Linked DNA regions of Homo sapiens. The protein of the gene in region 5 interacts with the protein of the main gene of each other region in a pairwise test. Each region holds a gene or a part of one and is shown on either strand. Other genes may lie near its edges. The genes, in order: ITGAM, TMEM45B, NEMP1, VSIR and TMEM229B.

Region 1 (6,187 bases), on a different chromosome or scaffold from region 5:
GTTCTGCCTGAACATCGCTACCAGGCCGATGTGCTGATATCGAGGTGCCCCCAGAACCAGGCTTTGCACCCGGTTCCGTAAGATGATGGCGGCAGCATAACCTGAAGGTGGGGGTCTGAGAGGTGAAGTGCATTCCCTGCCCCCTCCTCCACCATGCAGACCCACCCCTTGAGTAGGGGCACTGGGGCAGCCCCACGCTTGCTGTGTTGGGGTAACTGATCCCTACGCTATATTTCTCTTTATGAACATAATTACAATTCAATTTAGAAGTTTCTGGCCGGGTGCGGTGGCTCACACCTATAATCCCAGCACTTTGGGAGTCCGAGACAGGCGGATCACCTGAGGTCAGGAGTTCCAGACGAGCCTGGCCAACATGGTGAAACCCGGTCTCTACTGAAAATACAAAAAAAGACCAGGCACGGTGGCTCACGTCTGTAATTCCAGCACTTTGGGAGGCCGAGGCAGGTGGATCACCTGAGGTTGGGAGTTCGCGACCAGCCTGACCGACATGGAGAAATCCCATCTCTACTAAAAATACAAAATTAGCTGGGCATGGTGGCACATGCCTGTAATTCCAGCTACTCAGGAGGCTAAGGCAGGAGAATCGCTTGAACCTGGGAGGCGGAGGTTGTGGTGAGCCAAGATCACGCCATTGCACTCCAGCCTGGGCAACAAGAGCGAAACCCCATTTCGAAAAAAAAAAAAAAATTAGCCAGGGGTGGTGGTGCATTCTTGTAATACCAGCTACTCAGGAGACTGAGGTAGGAGAATCGCTTGAGCGCAGGAGGCAGAGGTTGTAGTGAGCCGAGTGCCATTGCACTACAGCCCGGGCGACAAGAAAGAAACTCCACCTCAAAAAAAAAAATTGAAGTTTCTGTCTTTAAAGCTATCCCAAGAGACTAATAGCTAGTATCCCATACATATGTATCCCATTCATTCAAGACCCAGACATCTATGCTAGTTGACTTATGCCAAATCCTCACCCCTTCTTAGAGTAACCCTTGCCCTCCCCACTTACCCAAGTAAGCATCATTCATGTCTGAATCCACTCTGGTCATGTTGATGAAGGTGCTTTTCTCCTTTGATGTATATAGAAAGACTCCACCAGCCCAGTCATAGCTCCCCACAGTGCTCAGCAAGGGGCCATTCTGGGAAAGGTGTAGAACAGGGTTGATGAGGAAGGAAGAAGGGACAACCGCTGCCCCTCACAGAGCTACTTCCCAAGTATCTATCACAGAGAAGAGTCCCCAAACCCCCACATCTCTCCTATCTCTTCTTGCTACCCCCTGCCCCACCCCCGCAATTTAATGAAGGGCCACTTACAGAGGTGATGGCAGCGCTGAAGCCTTCCTGAGACATCTCATGCTCAAAGGAGCTGCTACTTCCTGTCTGAGTACCTGTAAAGAGGAGAAGTTTCTATATTAAAGAAAGCAGAAGGCCGGGCATGGTGGCTCACGCCTGTAATCCCAACATTTTGAGAGCCTGAGATGGGCAGATCACTTGAGGTCAGGAGTTAGAGACCAGTCTGGTGAACATGGTGAAACCCCGTCTCTACTAAAAATACAAAAATTAGCTGGGCGTGGTGGTATGCGCCTGTAATCCCAGCTACTCAGGAGGCTGAGGCAGGAGAATCACTTGAACCTGGGAGGCAGAGGTTGCAGTGAGCCAAGATCGCACCACTGCACTCCAGCCTGGGCAATAGAGCAAGACTCAGTCTCAAAAAAAAATAGAAAGAAAAGAAAAGAAAGCAGAAGAACCTAGAACAGGTACTGAAAACCCAAGTGCTCTGGTGGCCACAGACAAAGGAGACTCCGACAGGATCTGTGTCAAGCTGGACAGCATACGTCCCTCTTAGAAGGATGGCAGCCATTCACCTCCAGCAACATCCTGCCAAGTGGGAATGCGGTCTTCAAGGTGTCTAATCTTCCAGCTTTTCAAGATAAGCCATAAACCCAGACTGTTTATGAAATCCCCCAATTTCTAAATTCCTTTTATTCAACAAACATTTATTGAGCACCTTCTGAGTACCAGGCACTATTCTAGGCAATTGGGATACAACAGAGAACCGAACAGACGACAGCTGGCAACACATCCAAATTTTTGTTAAAATACTGGGTGGGATTTGACTCCCCCATACTCCAATTTACCAGCCTATAGCCAAGATTTGCAAAATTACAGATAAAAGTATGGATTCTTTGACTTCAAAGGAATTGACCAAGTGAGGCTGGGACTGGGAGCTGTAGGAAGTGGAGAGAGTTGATGCTGGGGGATACCAAGGGTTAGGAAGGTCTGGATTCTAGAGGGGACTATGTTCTGGGGTGGGGGGCTGCCTCTGGAGCTGCTCTGGGAACACAGATGCCTGACTCACCCTCGATCGCAAAGATCTTCTCCCGAAGCTGGTTCTGAATGGTCTTCAGAGCCTCAAAGTTATTCACCTGGAACACGTGATCACGAGGCGGCTTGGATGCGATGGTATTAAGCTCTTGGCGGGATTTCTCACTGCGGAAGGCATCTCCCACCTGTTACCAAGGAACAGAGGCTAAATCATGGTGTGAGGCTAGCAATATCATCTGGCAAAGACAATTCTGCAGGAAACTAGTCTGAACCATTATTTATCAAGTGAGGAAATGCATCAGAAGGTCCCTGGGACAGGGTTGCCAGGTATAGTTGGGCAGGTTGTACACTGCACAAGGCACTGTGCCAAGGAAGCAAGTTGGGGCAGAAACCCGGCTGCTGATCCATCTGCTGTGCCACGTCTCCTGGTATGGAGCTGACCTCCCCCTAGAGGAAGGGGAGCCTTTTTCTTTATATGAAGGTATGTCCTACGTGCCAAGGCATGTATCCATGGTGATATCGCTTTCTGTGTCATGCAGGTGCTGTAGTAGTTTGATTACACTGATGATCCTGACTCCTTGCCTCTTCCTGTATCCAAGCCCTTTCCCCCAGCACTCTGCTGTGCCCTCCTGCTCTTGGTGGAGTCATCTGCCCCCTTCATTGCCTCTGGGCTCAGACATGAGTCTTGCTTTAGCCCATTGTATACAGAGCACCCTTGACATAACTGACTCCATCTTAGAAAAAGGCTCCATTCTATATTTCACAGGGCACTTTGCCAACAAGGATAAGGTCGTTTTAAACAAATTTTTTAAATAGGCCAGGTGCAGTGGCTCATGCCTATAATCCCACACTTTGGAAGGCCAAGGCGGGCAGATCACTTGAGATCAGGAGTTCAAGACCAACCTGGCCAACATGGTGAAACCCCATCTCTACTAACAATACAAAACAAAAATTAGCCAGGCATGGTGGTGCATGCCTGTAGTCCCAGCTACTCAGGAGGCTGAGGCACAAGAACTGCTTGAACCCAGGAGGTGGAGGTTGCAGTGAGCCAAGATCATGCCACTGCACTCCAGCCTGAGCGATAGAGCAAGACTCAGTCTCAAAATAAATAAATAAATAAATATAAATAAATAAAATAAACAAATAAAGACTACATCCAACCAGATAAGGATGCAAACAAGCACATTCTTCTCTGTCTGTTCTCACCAGACAGCTCTGTGACTAGAAGAGATCAGGCCTTCAGCAGCTCAAAGCAGCTGTTGGAACTCACACCTCGCAGTCGCTCATGATGAGAGCCTGGCATTTGCTGCCGAGGGCTCTGCCGTATCAAAGACTCTGCCTTGCAAGACTAACAGGACCAGGACCCTTGGGCCCAGACCAGGAGTCCTTTTCATTCATCCTTTCTCCTCTTTCTTTTTCTTCTGATGTTAAATGTTACTTTGTTTGCTGTGGAATGTTTAACCTATAACTTATATATTGATTAAGTATACTATTATATATGGTTTGCAATATTGACTGACTTGTGGGTGGCTTGAGCCAGAGTGTCTGAGGGAACAGGATGCACTAAGAAGAACTGCCTCCTTGGGAATTCCATGCAGCTTGTGGCGTTTGTGATTGAAATAGCATCAGCGAAAGATGTTGTGGAAAAACACAAACCTGCATGGACCTGGTTATCGCTAACCTTGCACTGCTCGTGACACCCATGGATGTTATCAAACATGATGCAGAGGCGTAAAAAAGCACTTGCAACATCTCCACTGTTCTCTTGCTCCCCTGCCTTCACCATGAGGACATGCCCAGGCTAGCCCTGGAGAATGAGAGCCAGGTTGCCAAAGGGCCAAGTCACCCCAGTGGTTCCACCCAAGGCCATCTGGTCCAGCAGATGACATAGCTGGCAACCCTCAGAAACAGAGAGAGCCTGGCCAAGATCAGCAGAGCAGCCTGCCAACCTGTAGCTAATGACAGTGAGGAAGGCCATTGAGACCAGAACTCTTGGCAGGCTGACCCACAGGCTTACTTATTATTTTAAGCTGCTGAATTTTGGGATAGTTTATTACACAGCATTGATGTGGCAACAGATAGCTGATACGGTGTATATGAGCTAGCATTAGCTCTCATGTCACTTTGATTTTAATAATATTTGCAAATTGAAGGGAGGATGGATCCACATAGAAACCCTCCACAGAAGCATCAACCTGAGAGCTGCATTCCCTACCCCAATGACGTAGCGAATGACTCCCTCTCTGTCTGCCTCAGGGATGACATCCTCATATCCCAAGGGATCGCCAAACTTTTCTCCATCCGTGATGACAACTAGGATCTTAAAGGCATTCTTTCGGGCTCCGTTGGTGATGTTAAACAGCTCTCGTCTGTGCAGGAAACAGGAGGGACAAAGTCAAATGCAAGTAGATGACACACTAGTTTTTTTTTTTTTTTAAGAAATAGACACTCACTCTGTTATCCAGGCTGGAGTGCAGAGACACAATCATAGCTCACTGCAGACTTGAACTCCTGGGCTCAAGTGATTCTCCTGCCTCAGCCTCCTGAGTACCTGGGACTACAGGCATGTACCACCACACTTGGTTTATTTTTTTATCTTTTTAGAGATAGAGTCTCACTATGTTGTCAATTGGTCTCAAACTCCTGGCCTCAAGTGATCCTCCCACCTCGGCCTCCTAAAGTGCTGACATTACTGGTATGAGACCCTGCACCTAGCCAGAGATGCTATTAACGTCAGAAAGGAAATGTCAGCAGAGTCCCAGACACAGATACAGCTAGGCGAGGTCTCGGAGGGGCTCCGTCTCCCCTGAGACTTAGCACTGAGATGCAACTGCCCCGAGACCTGGAAAAGCAGCAGGGAAGGGAAAGGAAGCCTTCACGGTTTTTGTTTTTATACTTTCGCATAATTTGGGTTTTTTAACTGAGTATTATTACTTTTGAATTTTAAAAATATATATATTTATGGCTGACACTTGTAATCCCAGCACTATGGGAAGCCAAGTCAGGTGAATCACCTGAGGTCAGGAGTTCAAGACCAGCCTGGTCAACATGGTGAAACCCTGTCTCTACTAAAAATACAAAAATTAGCTGATGGTGGTGATGGACGCATGTAATCCCAGCTACTCAGGAGGCTGAGGCAGGAGAATTGCTTGAACCCAGGAGGTGGAGGTTGCAGTGAGCCGAGATCAGGCCACTGCATTCCAGCCTGGGTGACAGAGTGAGACTCTGTCTCAAAAAAAAAAAAAAAAAAAAAAAAAAAAAAAAAAAAAATATATATATATATATATATATATATATATATATATATATAGTTAATTGGCCTTCAGGAAACCTCTCCCAGAGCACTGCACCAGCTCCCCAGCCCCTCTAGGACTCTCCAGTGCTTCTTGTACTTCTGTCCCAACCCCATCCTTGCCTCTACACCCACCTCAAAATCAGAGTGAACTTCCCAAAATGAGACATGGCGATATCTCACCACAGGCTGTAAAGCTGCCTTTGGCTCCCTGGCCTGAGCTGATCTTTGTAGCTTCCCTCCAGACACCTTTCCCTCACTTCCCCACTCCACTCCCACCTTTCACTCACAACTTGTCCTTTGATGAACACACCACGCACAGCCTCCCCACCTCTGCCGGTGGGGAAGCATCCTCTACCACCCCTGTCTGAACGGCTCCCTTCATCCATCAAAGCCCAGCTAAAAGTGTCTCCTCCTCCCTCCATCCTAAGGGAAAAGGGGAAGCTTACACCACTTTGCGGATGCCCGTGGCCGTGTGTGTCCGCCCAAGCAGCTGCGTTATTGGCTTCACCAGTGATCTTGGGTTAGGGTTGTTCTGGAACTCTTTGAAGGTAAAGTGAA
Region 2 (6,187 bases), on a different chromosome or scaffold from region 5:
CACTTTGGGAGGTCGAGGCGAGCAGATCACGAGGTCAGGAAATCGAGACCACGGTGAAACCCCATCTCTACTAAAAATACAAAAAATTAGCCGGGCATGGTGGTGGGTGCCTGTAGTCCCAGCTACTCGGGAGGCTGAGGCAGGAGAATGGCGTGAACCCAGGAGGTGGAGCTTGCAGTGAGCCGAGATCGCGCCACTGCATTCCAGCCTGGGTGACAGATCGAGACTCCGTCTCAAAAAAAAAAAAAAGAAAAACAAATTGGACTAAATTCTATTTTCTCACTATCTAACAAGAACACTGGCCACTGAGTCAGAATACTTGGGTCCTAGCCTGAATGCTGCTAGGAATTCACTCTGTGACCTTGAGCAAGACACATAGCCTCTCAGGGTCCTTTTTTTTTTTTTTTTTTTTGTGACAGAGTCTTGCTGTGTCCCCCAGGCTGGAGTGCAGTGGCGCCATCTCGGCTCACTGCAAGCTCTGCCTCCCGGGTTCACACCATTCTCCTGCCTCAGCCTCCCGATTAGCTGGGACTACAGGCACCCGCCACCACGCCCAGCTAATTTTTTGTATTTTTAGTAGGCACACGGTTTCACTGTGTTAGCCAGGATGGTCTCGATCTCCTGACCTCGTGATCCGCCCGCCTCGGCCTCCCAAAGTGCTGGGATTACAGGCGTGAGCCACCGCGCCCGGCCTCTTTATTTGTTAAATAGGGAGTTTGGAAGAGGGACTCTCCATGGCTCTTCTGAATTCTGAAATTCCTTTATGTCTTTGCTCCTCATTAATACATCACAAAAACGAAATGCAGAAGTTGGAGCAAGTTTTGGTCATGGAGAAGGGAGGATGAAACTAAGGCTATGGCTATTACCTACAAAGAAGCAGTTACCAGTTGCCACCTCAGCATACATTAGAGTGAAAGGACATCTCTGGACTTCAAAGGTGGGTTTAGTTTTCAAACAACCAAAAAAAAAAACCAAAAAAAACCTTACATATATTTCTGTAATTAACACTATCCTTAACTCAGCCATGGGAAAGAATACATTTAGTTCAGAATTCTCTTTCTGGGCGCTCAAGGAAAATAATAATGGAAAGATCTCTCCAAAGTCATGGAGTCAAATTTCCAAGATGCCAGGCCACTAAGGAACATTTCTTCAAGGCTTGGGCTCTCTGCCTTCTCCACCTCTTGGAAAAAGTGCTCAAGCTTACAGACAGACTCCTTCCTTCCTTCCCTCAGCATCCACTACCAGTGGGCTTGTTCAGCACTGACATTAGTGAGCAGGCAGAGGCTGGGCCTTCCACTTTACTCAACAGTCCTCCTTGCATAAGCCCTTACTTCCGTTTCCTCTTCCCCTTGCAAGAACTCTCACGCACACCCATGGATTAATCACCACTTGCACAATGGTGACTCCCACAACTTCATCTCCAGCTCTGGCCTTGTCTCTAAGTCTCAGACTCATAGATCCAACAACCTGCTGAACAGACAGACATGCACATAAACGTATAGATGTTTCTTAGACACCTCAAGTCAGTATTTCCAAGACTGAACTCACCATCTTCTTTCCCCACCAAATCGGCTTCTCTTCTCATATCCCAAACTTAGTTAATGGCTTAATGTCCAGTCACCCAGAAAGCCAGAATCTTGGGAGTCATTCTGGACTCTCTTCTCCCCTCACCATTGCCCCCAAAGACATCAAAATTCTGCTAAATTCGCTTCCCCAAGTATCCTGGTATTTTCTCTTTCCCTTCTGTGCCTGCAGCAATGATCTCATTTGGTCTCTCATTGTCTTTTTCCTAAACACTGCGAGGCCTCTAGTCCTGCTGTCCATGAATTCTTCTTCCACCCCGCAGCCAGTCATCCACCTTCCGTGTACATCTGACTACACTACTGGAGGATGGAAAATGTTCCATTGGCTAACCAGCAGCCTGTGGAGGGGTCCACGTCCCCTTGCATTGGGTATACCTGAATGTGGCTCCTCTCCAGTGTCACCTCCCAATTCTCCCCACCATGAACCTGACAGTGTCCCCTTTGCTCATGTTGTCCCCTCTAAATTGCACGTCCTTTTCATTCCTCTTACTTGGTTTCCATATTTAGGCCTTATTTCCTCCAGGAAGCCTCTGTGAATCTCCAGGCTGGGCTAAGCGCCTCACCTCTGTGTTTTCAAAGGACCTCATACATACCATGATTTTTTATCACTTACCATGTTATATTAAAATTATATAGTGACATATGTCTTGCCCATTAGTCTACAGAATCTTCAAGAGTGGAGACCTTATCATCTCCATCAAAAACTAGCACAAGCTTGATACATAATAATAGTTCTTAAACTGAACTGAACTGATGCAGCTTAGCCTTCATCTTGAATCAAGAGAACACCATCTCCTAAATCTAGCCATTGGTAAAATTGTTGGTACCGTTACTATTTTCATACAATTCTTAGAGCTAGGTAAGTCCCTTGATTTCTACTACTGTGTCTCACAGACTGGCATATGTGTGAATCCTTTCCCCCCAGATGATATCTGAAATCACAAGACGAACATAATCCTGGAGTATCAATTTCACCTAAAGATTCTGGAAAAATGATTTTCATTTTAAAACAGATACAGACATATTGTGGGGTAGCATATATTTTTTAGTATTAAGAGAGACTGCACTTATGCCAGGCTGTTCTCAGACAAGTCTCCAGGTCCCTGGGAGTTTAGACTCTATTGTTAGTGCTGACGATTGAGAAACAGTAATCTATAGATCACTGTTTTGCACTGTAGTTTAGTTACTGTTCTAGAGCCTCCCATAGAGAAATAAACAGCCCCAGTGAGACCGAAGCAGGAGCTATCTCAGTAATGGCCAGAAGAGAGGGACTTTCATTGTGGGTCTGAGTTAGGTTTGAAAAGATGTCTGTGTGATTGACAGGTAGGTATTCTGAAATGAGCACAACAATGAGCTTTGTATAATGTATAAAATATGCCAGATTGTAGATCAATGTAGGGGAGGAGGCAGAAAAATGACCATTAGAACAGATCAAAGAGAAGCTCTGGATCAAAGTGCAGGCCGATCAAAGACACTGGAAGGAAGGGAAGGGCACTACAGTCAAGGGATGGAACATGAGGAAAAAAATAATCCAAACTGAACTGTGGCTCAGGAGGGACTCGATGCAGGGTGGTTGGTGATAACCTAAGAAATAATTAGATATTTAGTAGGGTGATATGGGGAGTTTTCAATCCAGGAAATTCTACTTAGAGTCCTAGTAGTTAGAGATCTTTCAAGTTTGTTTTCTTATAGCTATTCCATACCATCAGATTTGAGAATGAGGTAGCATCATCCAAGAGGTGGTGACATAAAAAGATTTAACAGAAACAGAGGAAATAGCAAGGGGACAGGTAGGAAGGGCTAGTTTAAAACAGATAATAGGGTCAATTTAAGTCAACTAACATTTATCAAGTACCTGTTATGCATAAGGCACTGTTCTGGGAGATGGAGTTGCAGGGGTGACAAGCCTGGGCCTGTGCTGTCAGGGAGTTTGCAGTCTTTGTTGAAGTCGCCTAAGAAGGAAAAGCTAACAGCAAAAAATCAGGGTCTAATGGGCAGGCTTTCCAAGTGAGAGGCCTTAAGAAGCTAAAGCAGGAACGATTCCTATCAAACGTAGTATCTGTTCCCTTCACGTGATCTAAAACTTTCCCAGGAAAAAAATAAAAAACATGAATCTGCTCCAAGTTTTGATGATCACTGTGGGGCTGCAGAAGGGAAAAATTGCATGGATTTGGAGGGTGACCTTCAAGGACAGAAATTCTGTCCCAAATTCTAGAGATATTAGAAAAATATTTTCCCAGGCTGGGTGTGGTGGCTCATGCCTGTAATCCCAGCACTTTGGGAGGCCGAGGTGGGTGGATCACAAGGTCAGGGGTTCGAGACCAGCCTGACCAACATGGTGAAACCCTGTCTCTACTAAAAATACAAAAATTAGCTGGGCATGGTGGTGGGCGCCTGTAATCCCAGCTACTCAGGAGGCTGAGGTAGGAGAATGGCTTGAACTCGGGAGGCGGAGCTTGCAGTGAGCTGAGATCGCGCCACTGCACTCCAGCCTGGGCCACAGAGTGAGACTCTGTCTCAAAAAAAAAAAAAAAAAGAAAAATGTTTTCCCAATATAATCCATATTTTGCAAATGGTTATCAAAAAGTAAATTAGTTGTACATGTAGTCAAAGAGTTTTCATTCCCTAGTATCTCAGAGCTTTTTCAATAGAAAATAAAACATGGAGAACATCAGCAACTTCAAAGTGCAGGCGGAGTCAAGGACACATTTCCCATTTTGAATCCTAGACCTCCACCTGTCCACCTTACAACAAGAACCTCCGCTATTAAGCAGATGACATAATAAATACATCTAAGTTATTATGTGACTTTTCTCAAACAGGAATAAATGGCTAGAAATGAGATCTTTCTACAGAGAAACCCATTATATGTACTAGAAAGCACTAGAGACAGATGATGATAAGCCATCAAAAAGGCCTTCTCTGCTTAACCACCCTGCAATGAAGCCAGCCAACCTACAAGCCATGCTCACAGATGACGCACACCATCCCCAAACATGTATAAAGCTTCCAACGTGAAAGGCAGGCCAAAAGCAACATTAAACGTCACTTTAAAAATAGACACAGACATTGTAGGTAGCTGAAGAAAACTTCTAAAATGTAGAAAAAGTACTGAGTTAATATGCTTGGAGAAAGAAGAGAAGATGCTGCGTTCATGAAATGAGAACAGGATACTGTAAAAACCATTCAGAAGACCACACCTCTCGCCAATAAAAGCTCCTGAGAATTAAAAATATAATGGTAGAATGTAAACATTTAATAGCATTGTTGGAAGATTTATTAGAACTAAAAAAACATGGGATATTTTTTAAAATAAAAAAGATAAAATTACAAGACAGATCCAAGAGATCCCATTTTCAGATTCAGTCTAAGTAATTTAAGTTTCAGAAAGAAAGAACGAGGAAATTATATAACAGAAGAAAACCACTCAGAACTGAAGAATGTACTTTTTGGATTGAAAAGGCCTAGAAAATACTTAGGACAGTGACGGATACCTCCCTGTATTCCCCCCACCCCGCCAAAAAACCCACCCCAACATTAAATAACAACATCATGAAATATCAGAATATGAACAATAAAGAAAACCCTACAAATGCCCAGAGATTAGAACAAAATACAAGGGATCAGGAATTAGAATGGCATCAGCCTCTCAACAGCACCGTAAGAAAGTAGAATAAAATAGAGCAATGTTTTCAAAATTCGTACGGGAAATGATTTCTGATTAATATCCCATACCCAGCCAAACCAGCAAGCAAGTGTGAAGGAAGAAAAGTGACATCTCAAATGGGCACAAGCTCAAAAAGCAACCGCATCTTATGGGGCCTGAATCTTATACACTTTTGGGAGCCTTCTTTAAGAAAAAGGCGTAAAATTACAAAAACTGTACATAATTGGGTATGAAAGTACATATGTATTCCACAAGAGATGGCCTAGACAGAAAAAAAAAGTGTGTGTGTATTTAGAATGAGAAAATAAATCACAACAGACAGGGACCGTGGAGGTTCTAGACTCTGTCTTTTCAGATGTGCTTGGAAAATTTACCCCAAATGCTTCTTGATGGCGGCCTGGCGTTTCCTCCCCACTCAACAGCTCCATGCAATTAGCAGCACTCAGAGGGCCCCCATGAGTTTCCTTGGCTCCAGGAAATGACTTCTTGGTGATGAGTTCTCAAACAACTAAAGAAAATGTAGCAACTCCTACACCCCATTCCAGGGGGTTGGGGGAAAGACTGGTCAAGAAGGGAAATGTAAAGATCATGGTGTATCATGTGCCTTAGTTGGGAATAATATATACACCAAACATTGACATATCAAAAATTTAGGATATAACCGTACTGGGAACTTAAAAGAAAGGGATGTGAAGGTGAGAGGGAGGGTGGGGGTGTAAAGGAGCGAAACCCTCATCCTTCTTGGTAGGATGTCAATAGATGTCATCCAGAACTGGAAAAGAGAAGAAGAAATGGCCCGTATCTGCATGCTATTTAGAATATGGTAATATCAGAAAAACACAACCCAAAGCATTGAAAGTAATTGCCGCTAGGGTTCTATACTCAGTATAAACTCAATGAAAACCTTCTACAATGAACGACTTCTAAGACTATACAT
Region 3 (6,011 bases), on a different chromosome or scaffold from region 5:
CACCCAGCAAGACGCTGACGTGGCAGCAAACACGGCTCCAATGTCCAGCTTACCTCATAGTTATCCCTTCAATCCTTCTTGATGAGATTGGTCTGAGAGATGAGACTGTACTGAAATCACAAGAGCTATAACTGCCAGAGAAAAATTAAATGGGGTCTTCAAGTAGTGACTGAGCCAGCAAACTAAGTGGCCAAGAGGGAGACAAGAGCAGCTCCTAAAGAAGGTTGAAGTCAAGCAATCTCCGGAACACAGAGGATCTGAAGCATCTGGGCAGAGCCACAGGCAGGCAGGGCAAGGACACACAGCACACCAGAGCAGCACCGTCCTTCACTGTGTGAGAGCAACTCTCAGGCTGCAGAACCAATTGCCATCTCCACTGCCTACAGCTCAGGTCTCCAACTACCAGATAGGGAGTAAAAAACAGTTTGATTTTATTCACCTCAAGTCTAAACACGGTGGAAAAAAAACTGGTCTAGAGATGGAAACTATATTTCATGGGGGTTTATTAAACAGAGAAAGAGGAGAATCTTTCACAATTTCACAGTGCTTTCTCATTGAAATAAAGACATGATCAGGAAAAGTCACCCTTATAGGCAAGCTATCACCTCCCTAAGTAGGGGAGGCACCAAAATCTCCAGAGAATCCTGAGACCACTTGCACGAGTTGAATTATTTTTTAAAATAAACTTATGCTTAAATATGCTAGGTCTCAATTTCTATAAATAAGGTAAAAAATAGTATATTTCAGAAGTTTTAATAGTTCTTTGTAGAGAGAGAACATTTTACCATGTACATAATTCACAAGGGTATAAAGGTTTCCCAATGTAAAGTTCCTTTTACCCTTCAACTGTAACCCATAGCATCTGCCCAAATACTGCTCATTTTTCACTTTCTACTATATGTCTCTTTCCTGCCAACTGAGGTAGTTGTCACTTAGGACAGTTTAAGGCTCTGGAAAACACTGGTGGAAATAATCAACTGCCCACCTGGAGGGCAGTCTCAGAGCTGACCCTTTGGAAGTCTGCAATGGAGCTAGGCCTTTCAAAATTACCACGCTAAATGGCTGGTCTAAAGGAGTCATTACGGCTTTTTAAAAAATCATCTGCCTTTTTCCATCATCTTGGTGAGCCAGTAAGTCTGGTGCTGTGCGCTTGCCATGACCATCTATCTTCCTGGCTAAGGTAATTACAGACTTTTCCAGGGTATAAGGGTGAAGACCACAAAGAAAAAGAACCAAGTAAATGACAGACACTTGAGAATTTGCTTCCTCACAGATGACATTGCTGGTTTATAAGGGGTACTTTGCAATGGCAAAAGAATCTGAAACTAATGCTACTGCAATAACAGGCAGCATACATCTCAGGTCAGAAACGCAATCATAAATAAGTGTAAGTTCATGGAAACTTGACAGCTGAATGAGCACCCAGAGGCATGAAGATAACCTGGAGCCTATTTCCTGGCAATGCAAATTGTGGCTGCTGCATAACTACAAATTGTGTATCAAGAAACTACATAGTTTCAAGGCTTAAAAATTACCCAGATTTGGGGGAGTATGGGTGGTGAGAAAAGGCTGAAAGGAATGGACAGAGCATGTAGACAAAGGAAGGGAAAGGAAAAGGAGACAGTTTCCTGATTTCATAGCAACTCAAAGATAACATGACCCAATGACAGGAAAATGGAGAACGTATAAAAAGCATCCAAATCCCCTAAACAAGATGACTTCTCCTAGCTAGCAGGAATAATGCTACTCTGAACATACATAGTTCACAGGTAAGGGAACTGACCCTTCCTGAAAGGGCAAAGGCAGGGTAAGGAAGAATGGGAAGAGAAGAATACAAATGTTTTTTAAGATGGAATTGAAAGTTGAATATAATAAAAAGCCCAGTACATCTCACCTGCAGAAGAGCCTACAGGCATGTTCCTAAAGGCAAATAGGACTTTCTATCATATGTATGAGAACTAAATCAAAGCTTAAAACAACAGCTCCTGGGGCTTTAATGGATAATCCATATTAATAAATATGTAGGGGCCTAGGGGGTGTGTCACTCTGGAGCACTTGCTGGTTCTGGAACATGAGTTTGTTATGTTTTTTAAAAGACATTCATTTAAAAAACAAAACAATAAAAATCTATTTTCCTCCCAAAACAGTTAAATCAATAATTATTCTAAAGTCACTGAAATAAAAGCTGGAGTGAAGGAGGCTCAGATTTGTGGATTTCTCTCTGGAAGTTGCAGCCTATAGTCTAAAAGCATTCCTGCACTTAACAACAGTTCTTACTTTGGAGAGCCAGCCAGTGACAGAAATGCCATGATTGAATCAACTTTCAAGAAGGAGCTAGAATGCCATGCTAGCTGTGGCCATCCAATTTCTCTGGAAACATAAAAGTGGGCTGTTAGCTTAACCAATGGGAAGTGAACTACCCAGCATTCACTACTTTATCCACTCTCCTTCCTCAGGGATCCCATAGAGACCTCCCATTTCCAAAGGGAGGCCTTTTTAGGCCTCTTATTTCAGTAGGAGAATTTCTACCCTATCTATCTCACTCTGTTTCAAAGGGTTGAAAGCAATTGCACAACACATGCAACATGGACCAAGGCACCAAGCCAGTCCACGTAAAGATAACTGACCACTACCTAGGTTAGAAAGTTGTTCTGTGTGATAGCAGGACACCGAGAATATGAGTCCTCCTCCTCAGAGGATGCTTCCTCATAGATTTCATCCTGGGCAATAATGCTCCCTAATCCATACTCCTGCTCATGGACAGAAACTTCATTTGGCGTGAGGTGGGAAGAGCCTTCCACAAAGTCAGCAAATCTGGAAAAGAGAAGATAATACTCGTTAGAAATATCCTTCTGTCCTTTCTGGTCTTCTTTCAAAATAAGAACAAATTAAAGCCCTCGATATGCTCGCAACTCAAATTATATTAAGTCTAGCCAACATCCTTGTCCTTACTCTGGCAGGTAAGTAGACTAAAGCATGAAGTTAAGGAGAAAAGGAAAGCTGGGATCATAGGCTAATACCCCTGCAACTCCATCCTGCTTAATAAGCACTTGCCTATCCTTTCTAATTATGAAAGTGCCAAGGTTCCTTTAGTCATCTGTAATCCTGATAAGAGAAGATTAAGGGGCATTACAGTTATTCACGTTTATGGCCCTGTAAACTTTATGCCATCATGATTCCAAATTGAAGCTTCACATACTCATTGGTACATTTGCCCCCAACTAAAAAGTGGGTAGGGGGGAACCCTACCAACTCAGACAGCAATGCAAAACTTTCAGAAGGGAAACTTAATATGGTACTGGAGTCTTCCCATCTTAATGCTACAATCAAAGCTAGAGTAGATAGTTCCCTGAGGAAACAGGTTACTGCTTAATGTGTGATTATATATCCACCCTTCTCTTGACTACTTGAAGATTAACAGGAAAACAAAGGTCACAAGTGCACGATTCTCTAGAAGTATGATCTCTGGTAGAACTCAAGGTCACAATTACCCTGATAGATGCTTGGTATATCTGGCCGAGTTTACCTTTTTGGAGACTGGATTCGAGAAACAGTCTTCCAAGCAGAGCAGTCTGGACTGTTACAAAATTCTCGGAGCTCCTCTAAAGCCTTTCGGGTTTCTACCTCTCCTTGTATCCGATATTCTTCTTCTGTCAGGAGACGAGGGGGAACAGGCTTTTCTGCTCCCTTACACACCTTTCTGTGCTCACCAAAATAACATTATGAATCATTAATCAGTAATCTATATCCATCCTTACTTCTAGCTCCCTTCAGTGGGCCAAGAATACAGCAGACAGCCTGAACATTAAGAGTCATCACTCCTAAAAATTCCATGGACATCTTTAGTTATAATGAACTCCTGATACATTAGACTATGAGTGACAATTCATAGGCGACAGAGCGAGACTCCATCTCAAAAAAAAAGTGATATAATTTGCACCACCTTGTGGTAACAGGAACACATGACATTTTACTAGACCTTTTTATTTTATATAAAATGACTAGAATAAAAATATAAAAATGCCTATAGAAAGTAAAAAATTATAGTCAATATTATTCACTAATGTGAACAAACTCACTTTATTTTCCAATAAATGATAAAATACTTACTTATTTTCTAGTAGATGGGAAAATAACAGAAAATCATGGTATAAGACTGTGGTTCTAGCCAGGCACAGTGGCTCACGCCTATAATCCCAGCACTTTGGGAGGCCAAGGCAGGCAGATCACCTGAGGTCAGGAGTTGGAGATCAACCTGACCAACACAGAGGAACCCCATCTCTACTAAAAATACAAAATTAGCCAGGCATGGTGGTGCATACCTGTAATCCCAGCTATTCGGGAGGCTGAGGCAGGACAATCGCTTGAACCAGGGAGGCGGAGGTTGCAGTGAGCCGAGATCATGCCATTGCACTCCAGCCTGGGCAACAAGAGCAAAACTCCATCTCAAAAAAAAAAAAAAACAAAAAAAAACGCCGGGCAAGGTGGCTCACACCTGTAATCCCAGCACTTTGGGAGGCCAAGGTGGGCAGATCACAAGGTCAAGATTGAGACTATCCTGGCCAACATAGTGAAACGCCATCTCTACTATAAAAATGCAAAAATTAGCTGGGCATGGTGGCATGTACCTGTAACCCCAGCTACTCAGGAGGCTGAGGCAGGAGAATCGCTTAAACCCAGGAGGCAGAGGTTGCGGTGAGCTGAGATAGCACCACTGCACTCCAGCCTGGTGACAGAGCAAGACTCCATCTCAAAAAAAAAAGATTGTGGTCCAGTAACTTGGTTTCCCAAACTGAAAGCATCACCTTGACTATCTATAATAGACAACTTCAGGACCTAGTAACATTCCATATTTATTATGCAAGGTGACAAAACATGCTATGAATTACATCTTAAAATAAGACTAAGACCTCCAGAGCAATCTGAAAGCCACTGAGAAATAGTCTGAAATGGGCTGGGTGAGGTGGCTCACGCCTATAATCCTAGCACTTTGTGGGGCTGAGGTGGGCAAATCACCTGAGGTCAGGAGTTTGAGACCACCCTGGCCAACATGGTGAAACCACATCTCTATTAAAAATACAAAAATTAGCCAGGCATAGTGGCGCCCACCCGTAGTCCCAACTATTCGGGAGGCTGAGGCAGAAGAATCACTTGAACCCGGGAGGTGGAGGCTGCAGTGAGCCGAGATCACGCCATTGTGCTCCAGCCTGGGTGACAGAGAGAGACTCTGTCTCAAAAAAAAAATCTGAACCCAGGAGACCTCAATGAGCATACGGTATAAAAGCGATACAATTTGTGGCGGGGCGCAGTGGCTCATGTCTGTAATCCCAGCACTTTGTAATCCAAGCACTTTGGGAGCTCCTCAGCACTTTATGAACTCCTGACATTTGAGGTCAGGAGTTCAAGACCAGCCTGGTCAACATGGGGAACCCTACTAAAAATATAAAAATTAGCTGAATGTGGTGGCGCATGCCTGTAATCCCAGCTACTCAGGAGGCTGAGGCAGAAGAATCGTTTGAACCCGGGAGGTGGAGGTTGCAGTGAGCCGAGATCACGCCACTGCACTCCAGCCTGGGCGACAGAGCGAGACTCCATCTCAAAAAAACAGTGATAGAATTTGCACCACCTTGTGGTAACAGGAACACATGACATTTTACTAGACATTTTATATAAAATGACTAGAATAAAAATATAAAAATTCCTATAGAAAGTAAAAAAAAAAAAATAGACTCGGGAAGGAACAAAAGTGGAAGTACAATACAATGACTTTTCATTAACAAAGAAGCTCCCAGGTCAACACCTCTGTATCCTCTTGCTGCAACTGCATCCCACAATGTACCTGTCAATATTAAGTTACATTGCCTTTCAGTCACCTGCAGGTGATGTACAGCCACTGAATAGGGTGTTCCAGGTTCTTAGTACAAAGAGCAATGATGATAATGGCAAGGGCAATATGTGGTATCTGGATGCCAGAATACATGAAACACAGGCCCATCAGCTGCAAGGTCCAG
Region 4 (3,500 bases), on a different chromosome or scaffold from region 5:
ATATATACACACACACACATATATACACACACACATATATATACACACACACATATATATACACACACATATACACACACACATACATACATATATGTGTGTATATATATGTATATACATATATATGTGTGTATATATATGTATATACATATATATGTGTGTATATATATGTATATACATATATATGTGTGTATATATGTGTATATATATGTATATACATATATATGTATGTATATATATGTATATACATATATATGTATGTATATATGTGTATATATATGTATATACACACACATATATATATATATATATCCCTGAGATAATAATACTTAAAAAGACTTAGTCCAGTGCCCAGCACAGTGGGAACTCAGGAAAGGTAGTTCTGTTCCCCTTCCTGAACCTCTTCCTCCTCCCTCCCCTGCAACAGAGAACATCTGAAGAACATAGAAACACAGAACACAGAAATCTGAAGTAGTTTAATTCTAGGCCAAGAGGACCCCCAGCCTTCCCAAGCCATAGGGGGCTGGTGGGCAGGGCGGCACTTAGCTGCCTGGGGCACCCAGTACCTGTCATGAGGCACTTGCCCTGGCCAAAGGTCACTGCCAAGGCACAGCCACTCCAGAGAGTCAAGAGGAGCAGAGACTCCAGAGCAGATGGAAGGAGAGTGGGCTTCTGGGGATTGCACCAAGGAGGAAGCAGAAGGGATGTGCAGCAGCAGAAAAGGAGGAGGACCGGGGGGTTCTGAGGGCTTGGGGTGATGAGGCCAGAGTTCCAAACAGGGTCTGGGTGCAGGATGAGGACAGAAGAAAACAGAGAACCCAAAAGGGGCAAGAGGTTGGTCCCTTACTTTCACTATCCTGGGAGGAGGATGGGTACACCACACAGTTGGATGGTGCATCTTTGCCTGTGGGAACAAACAGAAGGGCCATTAGGTGGGTGTCAGGCCCAGGAGGCCAGGGAGGCTTGTCCAGGCCAGTGTCCCCCTCCTGCCCCAGGTTCTCACGCTAGTGCCTACTCGGCAGTGTTGGCCCAGTGGCAGCCTGCACACGTGTGCACCCACACACACCCTGGCATGTTCTCACCCTGCCCATTTTCATGCCACTCCCAGGGGCATGTGAATACCCGCTGGTGCCCACACCTCTATCCGAACCATGGGCCCTTGCACTCTCACCTGAACAGACAGACACACACACGCATATATTCTCCAACAGCCATTCAGCCATCCACTGAGTCATGCCCCAGGGCACCAATCAGTCCCACTGATGCCTATACCCACAGCAGCCATGATGTCATCATGAGCAGTCACACTCCCAGCCCAGGTACCTACAGCCTCACACATTAAAAAGTCTCACTGTCACAAATGGAGCCAGGTACACCCTCCCTCTCCATCACTCCAGCTAACTACAAACCCACACTCCACACACCCTTGACCACCCCATCTCACCCACACACTCCCTGGAGTGCCAGTGTTACCCATGCAGCCTCACACTCTGCCCAGCACAGTGTCATGAATGGTCACACCATCAGACAGGCAGCCCTCCACACACGCCAGGCTGTCACGTGCAGGATGCCCTCACCTGTCTGCACCTGCAGCTCCATGGCACCATGGACCCTGTGCTCCGAGTGGTGGTGCCTGATCTCCACCACCAGGCAGCAGTAGAGGCCGCTATCCAGCAGGGTCAGGTTGCGCATGGTGATGGAGAAGTTGCCATGGTGGTCGGAGGCCGACTCCAGCCCGTGGCGCTGAGCCAGGTCGTGGCTGGTGTTGGCAGCCTGGTGGCCTCCATGGTGCAGGTGAAGGTCCTGGAACGTGAGGTTGCGGATGGGCCGGCGCTCTGAGCAGGTCTGCACCTCGCCCCTCGAGCTGCGGTACCACGTCTTGTAGAAGGTCACATCGTGCCCTTTGTCCACAGGGCCCAAGAGCCTGCAGGTGAGGGTGACGTTCTGCCCCTCGGGACAGACATACAGGGAATACGGCGTGGCGACCTTGAAGGCTGCCACCGGACCTGCTCAGAGAGAGGAGAGCCCTGTCACCTGACTGATCCAGTGCTACTCCTGGCAACCCCAGAGCGGGGAAGAACCTTAGCCTCTGCTACTTCCCAGCCACAGGCCAGGGGCATGTCAGCTGACCTCCCTAAGACTGCCTTCTGCATTTGTTCACAAACCCCACTCCATCCTAGGCTGTTGTAGGGGGAGTCACAGAAGCTTCCCCAACTAGGGGTGCTCCTGGATGCTGGACAGGGCAGGGAGAGACTTGGAGGGCAGTGATGCAGTCGGGTGTGTCCCTCTTCCCAGTAGAGTATATGCAAAACCTGTTGGGTGGGAGGCAGGTTGGGGAGCAGGAAGGCTGTTTCGAACAGCAGCTCCTTGTCCTTGGCCGCTCTGTAGGGGCCATCAACACCTCTGCCCCTTCCTACTCCTAGGACTGAACATGCCTTCCCATCCTTGCCAGGGAGCACTAAGAGAGCACCTGCGTGTGCAAGGCCTGGGCCAGGTGCTGCATCTCACCTGCATGCTGAATGCATGGCCTCCCCTTGAGCAGACGAGGCCTGCATTCCCGACAGCAGAACCCCATGGCAAAGGCAATCCAATGCCAGCCCTCAGGGCACTTGGAGGAGGGAGGAAACAGCCTTCTGGGGACAGTCAGGGACTTCCTGAAGGAGGGAGAGTCTTTGGACTTGGTGCATAGATAGGATTTCAGCCAGTAGAAAGGGTGTCCTAGGCAAGATAGTGTGAAAATGGGAAAACCCAGTGTCTGAGGGACCGGGACAGAGAGTATATGAAAGGTCATCTCATCCATGCACGTCCTTCCAGCCAAACTTAGAAAACTGTCTAGTTCTGTTTGGTTTTTTTCACCAAGCAAATGAAGCAATTCCCTGGTCCACTTTGCCTTATCCCAATCCTCCAGCATTTAATTGGGTTGACCCTCAAAACCATGAGCTTTTGAAAACAGAATATTGGATAGAGGCCGCGTTTCTATCTAACTGTATGAGCCTCAGTTTCCTCCTCTGTGCAGTGAGAAAACTATTGGCTACAATGCAGGGTTGCAAAAGGACTAGATGAGGGAAAGATGAGAACACAAGATGTGAGCTCTAATGCCCTCTGCAGACATCTGAGGGATAGCTATAATTATTATGCGTTGGTGTTATTTTTATTTATTTATTTGTTTTTGAGACGGAGTCTCCCTCTGTTGCCCAGGCTGACCTTGAACTCCTGGCTTCAAGCAATTCTCCTGCCTTGGCCTCTCAAAGTCTTGGGATTACAAGTGTGACCCACTACGCCCGGCCAGTGGTATTTTTATTTTAAATGGCATGTCAGGCTGTTGTGGGTCTAGCAGAGAGGGAAGGAGGGTTAGAACTATGTACAGAATCCAAACTGATACATCCTTTTCATTGCCCCAGCCAGGGGCATTGCCCAGAACCAATATAATGCCACATCCTCCTTCAGATGCCCCTTCCCTGCCCTTAGAGCCCAGGACCCTCGGCGGCAGGCTGGGACCC
Region 5 (6,187 bases):
CCACAGGTAGGTCCAGAGCGTGTAGATGAGGCAGCGCAGGAGCAGCGGGCAGCGGCCGCGCAGCCGCAGGTACATGCGCTCCACGATGAGGATGGAGGTGCCGTAGATGAAGAGGGCCCACACGCTCGTGACCCCAGGGAACTTCCAGTTCAAGTTCACCACGAACTCCCAGGCCGCTGTGAACATCACCTCGCAGAAGTAGCCGTGGATGGCATACAGGTACCAGCGGGACAGCGCCGTCAGGGGCTCGGCAGACGCCATGGCGCCGACTGGGGCTGGCTGCGGGGGGCGCAAGAGAGACAGGTGAGGGCCGGGCGCGGTGGCTCACGCCTATAATCCCTGCGCTTTGGGAGGCCGAGGCGGCGGATCACTTGAGGTCAGGAGTTCCAAACCAGCCTGGCCATCATGGTGAAACCCCGTCTCTACTAAAAATACAAAAATTAGCCTGGCGTGGTGGCCCGCTCCTGTAATCCCAGCTACTTGGGAAGCTGAGGCAGAAGAATCGCTTGAACCCGCAAGGCAGAGGTTGGAGTGAGCCAAGATTGCGCCACTGCACTCCAGCCTGGGAGACAGAGTGAGACTCTGTCTCCAAAAAAACAAAACAAAAAAAAAACAGAGCAAAGAACAGAATAACCCACCCACCCCACTGACTTCTCTGCAACTCTACCCAAATGCTACTTAGAGGGAGGTGTCTGTACTCCCTAGAGCTTTTTTGGATTATCTGTGGTCAGTTGAAGAGTCGGCTGGCCTGCTGCACCAATCAGCCCCATTTCTAGACTACTTGCTGATTTCTCAGCAGGCCTATCCACTGGGGACCCCATTTCTTCCTCCACTTCTTCTCAAACAGTTCCATGTCACTCATATTTCTGAGATGTAAGTGACTCATCACATTTGTCCTTGTGTGTGTGCATGCCATTTTTTAACCATGTGTAAGTGTACAATTCAGTGGTCTTAAGTACATTCACATTGTTGTGCAACTGTCACCACCAACCATCTCCAGAACTTTTTCATTGTCCCAAACAGAAACTTTGTATCCATTAAATACAAACTCCCATTCCCCATACCCTCAGCCCCTGGCAACCACTATTCTATTTTCTGTCTCTATGAATTTGACTACTCTGGGTGCCTCATATAAGTGGAATCATACAAACACTGTCCTTTTGTGACTGGCTTAGCATAACTGGCTTAGCTTTCACTTAGCCTAATGTCTTTAAGGTTCATCCATGTTGCAGCACATGTCAGAATTTCCTTCTTTTTTTTTTTTTTTTTTTGTGACGGAGTCTCGCTCTGTCGTCCAGGCTGGAGTGCAGTGGCGCAATCTTGGCTCACTGCAACCTCCGCCTCCTGGGTTCAAGCGATTCTCCTGTCTCAGACTCCTGAGTAGCTGGGACTACAGGCACACACCATCATGCCCGGCTAATTTTTGAATTTTAGTAGAGACGAGGTTTCACCATGTTGCCCAAGCTGGTCACAAGCCCCTGAGCTCAGGTGATCCGCCCGCCTTGGCCTCCCAAAGTGCTAGGATTACAGGCGTGAGCCACTGTGCCCAGCCAGAATTTCCTTCCTTTTAAAGGCGGAATCATATTCCATTGTATATATCACCATATTTTGTTTATCCATTCATCCATTGATGGACACCTGGGTTGCTTCTACCTTTTGGCTACTCAAAATAAGGCTGCTATGAACACGGGTGTACAAAGGTCTGTCTGAGTCCCTGCTCTCAACTCTTTCAAGTACATATGCAGAAGTGGAAATACTGGATCATATGGTAATTCTATGGTTAACTTTCTGAGGAACCACTGTGCTGTTTTCCACAGTGGCCACACCATTTTACATTCCCCATCAGCAATGTACAAGGGTTCCAATTTCTCCACATCCACCCCAAACACTTGTTATTTTCTGTTTTGTTTTTATAATGGCCATCCTAATGGGTGTGAGGTGGTTCTCTCATTGTGGTCACATTTGTCTTTGCTCCATTAAATGGGGTTTTGGTGTTTGGTTTCAGTGCTGAGGGGAAACCAATGGATTGACACAGGAAAGAGTCCTCCCCAGTCCTTCTGGCTCCTTTCCCCTCCCCTCTTTTAAACCCCACCAGTCTTCAACGCCCGGCTCCCATGCTGCTTCTCTCTACTTTCTCCTCACCCTCCACCAGCGACTGTCTGCACCACTTACCTGGCCCATTATCAGGTGCCACCCCAATGGCTTTTTGAGGTATGTGCTCTCATGATCCAACTAGCATGTGAACTCCTTGAGGATAGTGACTGTTGCACAGGCCAGTGCTTTGTGGCCTTGACGCAGGCCCGTCCTGGGCAGGCCCTCTCTAAATGACATGTCCTGTTCATGTGGAGGGAGGTGTGGGACTGCATCAAGAATGGGAAGGTAGGGCTTGAGAACATAAATCCCAGCTCTGCCAGCTGCTAATGGCTTCACATCTCTGTCGATCCCCTCTCCAAGGTGGGAGAAAAGACAGAGGTTAAGGAAATGGCATCTGTAGTATGCACACCTGTCTGGGAATTCCAGCCTCACATTTCAGCTGAAGCAGGCCTGGTCACATTAATACCTACCCAGCCTTGTGCATTGCTCTGTGGTCTTCCAAGCACTTCGTTCGCATTTTGTCATGGTTCTTACATAATTAAAATTCAGGCTGGGCGCAGTGGCTCACACCTGTAATCCCAGAACTGTGAGAGGCTGAGGCGGGTGGATCACCTGAGGTCAGGAGTTTGAGAACAACCTGGCCGACATGGTGAAACCCTGTCTCTACTAAAAATACAAAAATTAGCTGGGTGTGGTGGCATGCACCTGTAGTCTCAGCTACTTGGGAGGCTGAGGCAGAAAAATTGCTTGAACCCAGGAGGCGGAGGTTGCAGTGAGCCAAGATCATGCCACTGCACTCCAGCCTGGGCAACAGAGCAAGACTTCCTCTCCAAAAAATATATTTATAAATAAAATAAAAAAGATTCATGTGAAGGTCAGAAAATTTTACTCCCATTTTTTTGCAGTGAGACAGAGCTCAGAGAGGGGACATTATTTACCCCATATCCCAGGGCCAGTAAATGGAAGAGCTGAGATTAGAACCAATATCTCTTGCTTTCTACTGCAGAACTCATCCCCTGCACATGACTGCCCATCTCTTAGACATACGTACCAAATGTCTCTCCCCTGCTCAAAAATGCTCGATAGTGGCTGGGCACAGTGGCTCACGCCTGTAATCCCAGCACTTTGGGAGGCGGAGATGGGCAGATCACCTGAGGTCAGGAGTTCAAGACCAGCCTGACCAAAATGATGAAACCCTGTCTCTACTAAAAATACAAAAAAACAATGGATGGGTAGGTATTAATGTGACCAGGCCTGCTTCAGCTGAAATGTGGTGGCATGCGCCTATAATCCCAGCTACTTAGGAGGCTGAGACAGGAGAACCGCTTGAACCTGGGAGGTGGAGGTTGCAGTGAGTCGCGATCGCACCATTGCACTCCAGCCTGGACAACAAGAGCGAAACTCCATCTCAAAAAAAAAAAAAAAATGTTCGATATCTCCTTATTTCCTAATGAAACACAACAGCATCCTTGGCCTGCCATTCAAGATTCTTCATGACCTTGCCCCGATTGACATCTTCAGCCTTTTCCTCACAATCCAGCTCTTCCTGTCTTTCATCTCCATGCCTTTGCAGGTCCTATTCATTCTGTTAGGCGTGCCTTTCTCCTCTCACTTCCATGAGTATAAACCAGCTTGCAGGTTACCTTCAGAACAAAATCTCTTTCATTCCCCCAGGTCCCAAGGCTTCTCTTCCTCTTCTGAATTTCTACAGCACTTACTCTGTCTCACTCCCTTTGCTACAGGTTATTTTCAATATTATATTGAGAATTTCTGTCCCCGGCCAGACCTCTTTCCTGTGTGCTACACCTATAGCTCCTGCCCTTCCCTAGACAGCTCCCCCTAATGTCCCACAGGCATCCCAAACTCCTTTCCTAAATCAAACCCATGGGCAGGTGTGGTGGCTTATGCCTGTAATCCTAGCACTTTGGGAGGCAGAGGCAGAAGGATCGCTCGAGCCCAGAACTCTTGAATTCAAGACTAGCCTAGACAATGCAGTGAGACTCTGTCTCTAAAAAATAAATAAATAAAATCAAACCCATTATCTTTTCCCCAAAACCTGTTTCTCTCCTAAGACCCCCACCCCAATTAATGGCACCACCATGCACCCAGTTAGAACCAGCGGTCTCAAAGTCTGTCTGGCTTCCTCTGCCACATCCCCACCCTAACATGAGTTCCTGAGAGTGAGGGCCTTGCCTGCCTGGTTCAGCATAGTATTCCCAGTGCCTGGCACAAAGCCCAGCACATAGTAAGCATTCAAGAGAAGAATAAAGACATTTCTTAGTTAGCAATCGCCATATAACAAATCATCTCAAAAACCCTGGCCTAAAACAACTACCGTCTACTATTACAGCTCACATGTCTGTGGTTGGCAGACGGCTGGGGCAGCGTAGCTCCACTCCACCTGTCTCTCATCCTCCTCCGGGGCCCAGTGGACTTGCCTGGGCATATTCTTCTCATGGCAAGGGCAGAGGCACAAAGCTGAGCAAGGCTAGCTGTACAAGTGTGGTTCAAGACCCTGGCTAAGCCATGCCCACCATCATCCCACTGGCCAAGGGAAAGCCACCAAGTCAGCTACTAACTCCCACCCTTACCACCTCTTAAATATCTTTGGGATCCATCCCCTCCTCTTCATTACTCTTCTCATTGCTGCCACTGCTCTGGTTCACGCCCTCATCATGTCTCACCTGGATGACTCCAAAGGTCTCCCAGCTTTGCCTTCTTCCTTCTAATTCACTCATCACAGGATGAAAGAGTGTGTAGAAAAAACGCAACCTTTCTAAAATGCAAATCCGATGTTTCTCACCACTTGAAGCCCATGAGTGGATCTTCAACATCTACAGAGTAAATAAAGCTCAAACCCCTGGGGACGGCTGGCAAAGCCCTTCACAACTCGTCCCTGCCTCCAATCCTGTCCTCCAGATCTCTACCTTGCTGTTTTTGCTACCTGGGCCCCACCCAGGGCCGGTGAACCCTCCTTTAAGACCCAGCTCCTCCTCTGTGAGGACTTTCCTAAGCACCCTGACTCCAGAGTTGTCTTCCCACTTCTGCACCCTCCCTTCTCTGTGGTAATAGTGAGCACTCTGCTTCACTGGATTCATCTGAACGCCAGCACCAGCAGCCTCCTGAGGAATGCTTGTTTAAGATAGTGGTAAGAGAAAAAAGCAGGATTCAAAACTGAATATTCAACCTAACTCCGATTCTGCAAAGGCATGCATATGTGCACATATACAAAAAAATTAAACAACAATCATCTCTGGATGGTGATATCATATGTGCTTTTTTTCTTTATATTTTTCTGCATACTTTTTTTTCCTAACAAGCATGTATAACTTTTATAAAACTAAAATTTCATCTTAAAAATGCTTATGGAGGCTGGACGTGGTGGCTCACCCTGTAAACCCAGCACTTTGGGAGGCTGAGGTGGGTGGATCATGAGGTCAGGAGTTCAAGACCAGCCTGGCCAACATGGTGAAACCCTGTCTCTACTAAAAGTACAAAAATTAGCTGGGCGTGGTGGCGTGTGCCTGTAATCCCAGCTACTCGGGAGGCTGAGGCAGAAGAATTGCTTGAACCGGGACCCAGGAGGTGGAGGTAGCAGTGAGCGAGATCGTACCACTGCACTCCAGCCTGGGCTACAGAGCAAGACTCTGTCTCAAAAAAAAAAAAAAATGCTTGTGGAAGCTGGGTGCAGTAGCTCATGCCTGTAATCCCAGTACTTTGGGAGGCCGAGGTGGGTAGATCACCTGAGGTCAGGAGTTCGAGACCAGCCTGGCCAACATGGTGAAACCACATCCCTACTAAAAATACAAAAATTAGCCGGGCATGGTGGCATGCACCTGTAATCCCAGCTACTCGGGAGGCTGAGGCAGGAGAATCGCTTGAACCTGGGAGGCGGAGGTTGCCGTGAGCCGAGATAGCGCCACTGCACTCTAGCCTAGGTGACAGAGTGAGACTCCGTCTCAAAAAAGGAAAAAAAAATGCTTGTGGAATGAATATGTATTCACCGTATTCATACCTCGTGTATAGAAGGTGTTCAATGAATTTGCTAAGCAAATGAACCCAAAGAAACCTGAAGTCATGTAAAATTATTGCA

What was found.
Region 1: the proteins of TMEM229B (region 5) and ITGAM interact in binary tests that used the Homo sapiens proteins (3 or more experiments, as listed by UniProt).
Region 2: the proteins of TMEM229B (region 5) and TMEM45B interact in binary tests that used the Homo sapiens proteins (3 or more experiments, as listed by UniProt).
Region 3: the proteins of TMEM229B (region 5) and NEMP1 interact in binary tests that used the Homo sapiens proteins (3 or more experiments, as listed by UniProt).
Region 4: the proteins of TMEM229B (region 5) and VSIR interact in binary tests that used the Homo sapiens proteins (3 or more experiments, as listed by UniProt).

Annotation. Positions count from the first base shown.
Region 1 is NC_000016.10:31,271,881-31,278,067, reverse strand, and holds part of ITGAM (integrin alpha-M isoform 2 precursor), read right to left. Parts: coding exon 6,076-6,187; intron 4,704-6,075; coding exon 4,550-4,703; intron 2,520-4,549; coding exon 2,369-2,519; intron 1,398-2,368; coding exon 1,324-1,397; intron 1,149-1,323; coding exon 1,019-1,148; intron 102-1,018; coding exon 1-101.
Region 2 is NC_000011.10:129,820,774-129,826,960, reverse strand, and holds part of TMEM45B (transmembrane protein 45B), read right to left. Parts: intron 1-6,187.
Region 3 is NC_000012.12:57,057,246-57,063,256, forward strand, and holds part of NEMP1 (nuclear envelope integral membrane protein 1 isoform a precursor), read right to left. Parts: coding exon 5,874-6,011; intron 3,701-5,873; coding exon 3,527-3,700; intron 2,815-3,526; coding exon 2,634-2,814; 3' UTR 1-2,633. UniProt on the Homo sapiens protein: Together with EMD, contributes to nuclear envelope stiffness in germ cells. Required for female fertility. Essential for normal erythropoiesis. Required for efficient nuclear envelope opening and enucleation during the late stages of erythroblast maturation.
Region 4 is NC_000010.11:71,760,021-71,763,520, forward strand, and holds part of VSIR (V-type immunoglobulin domain-containing suppressor of T-cell activation precursor), read right to left. Parts: intron 2,007-3,500; coding exon 1,578-2,006; intron 905-1,577; coding exon 848-904; intron 1-847.
Region 5 is NC_000014.9:67,473,663-67,479,849, forward strand, and holds part of TMEM229B (transmembrane protein 229B), read right to left. Parts: intron 280-6,187; 5' UTR 276-279; coding exon of another isoform or gene 262-275; coding exon 1-261.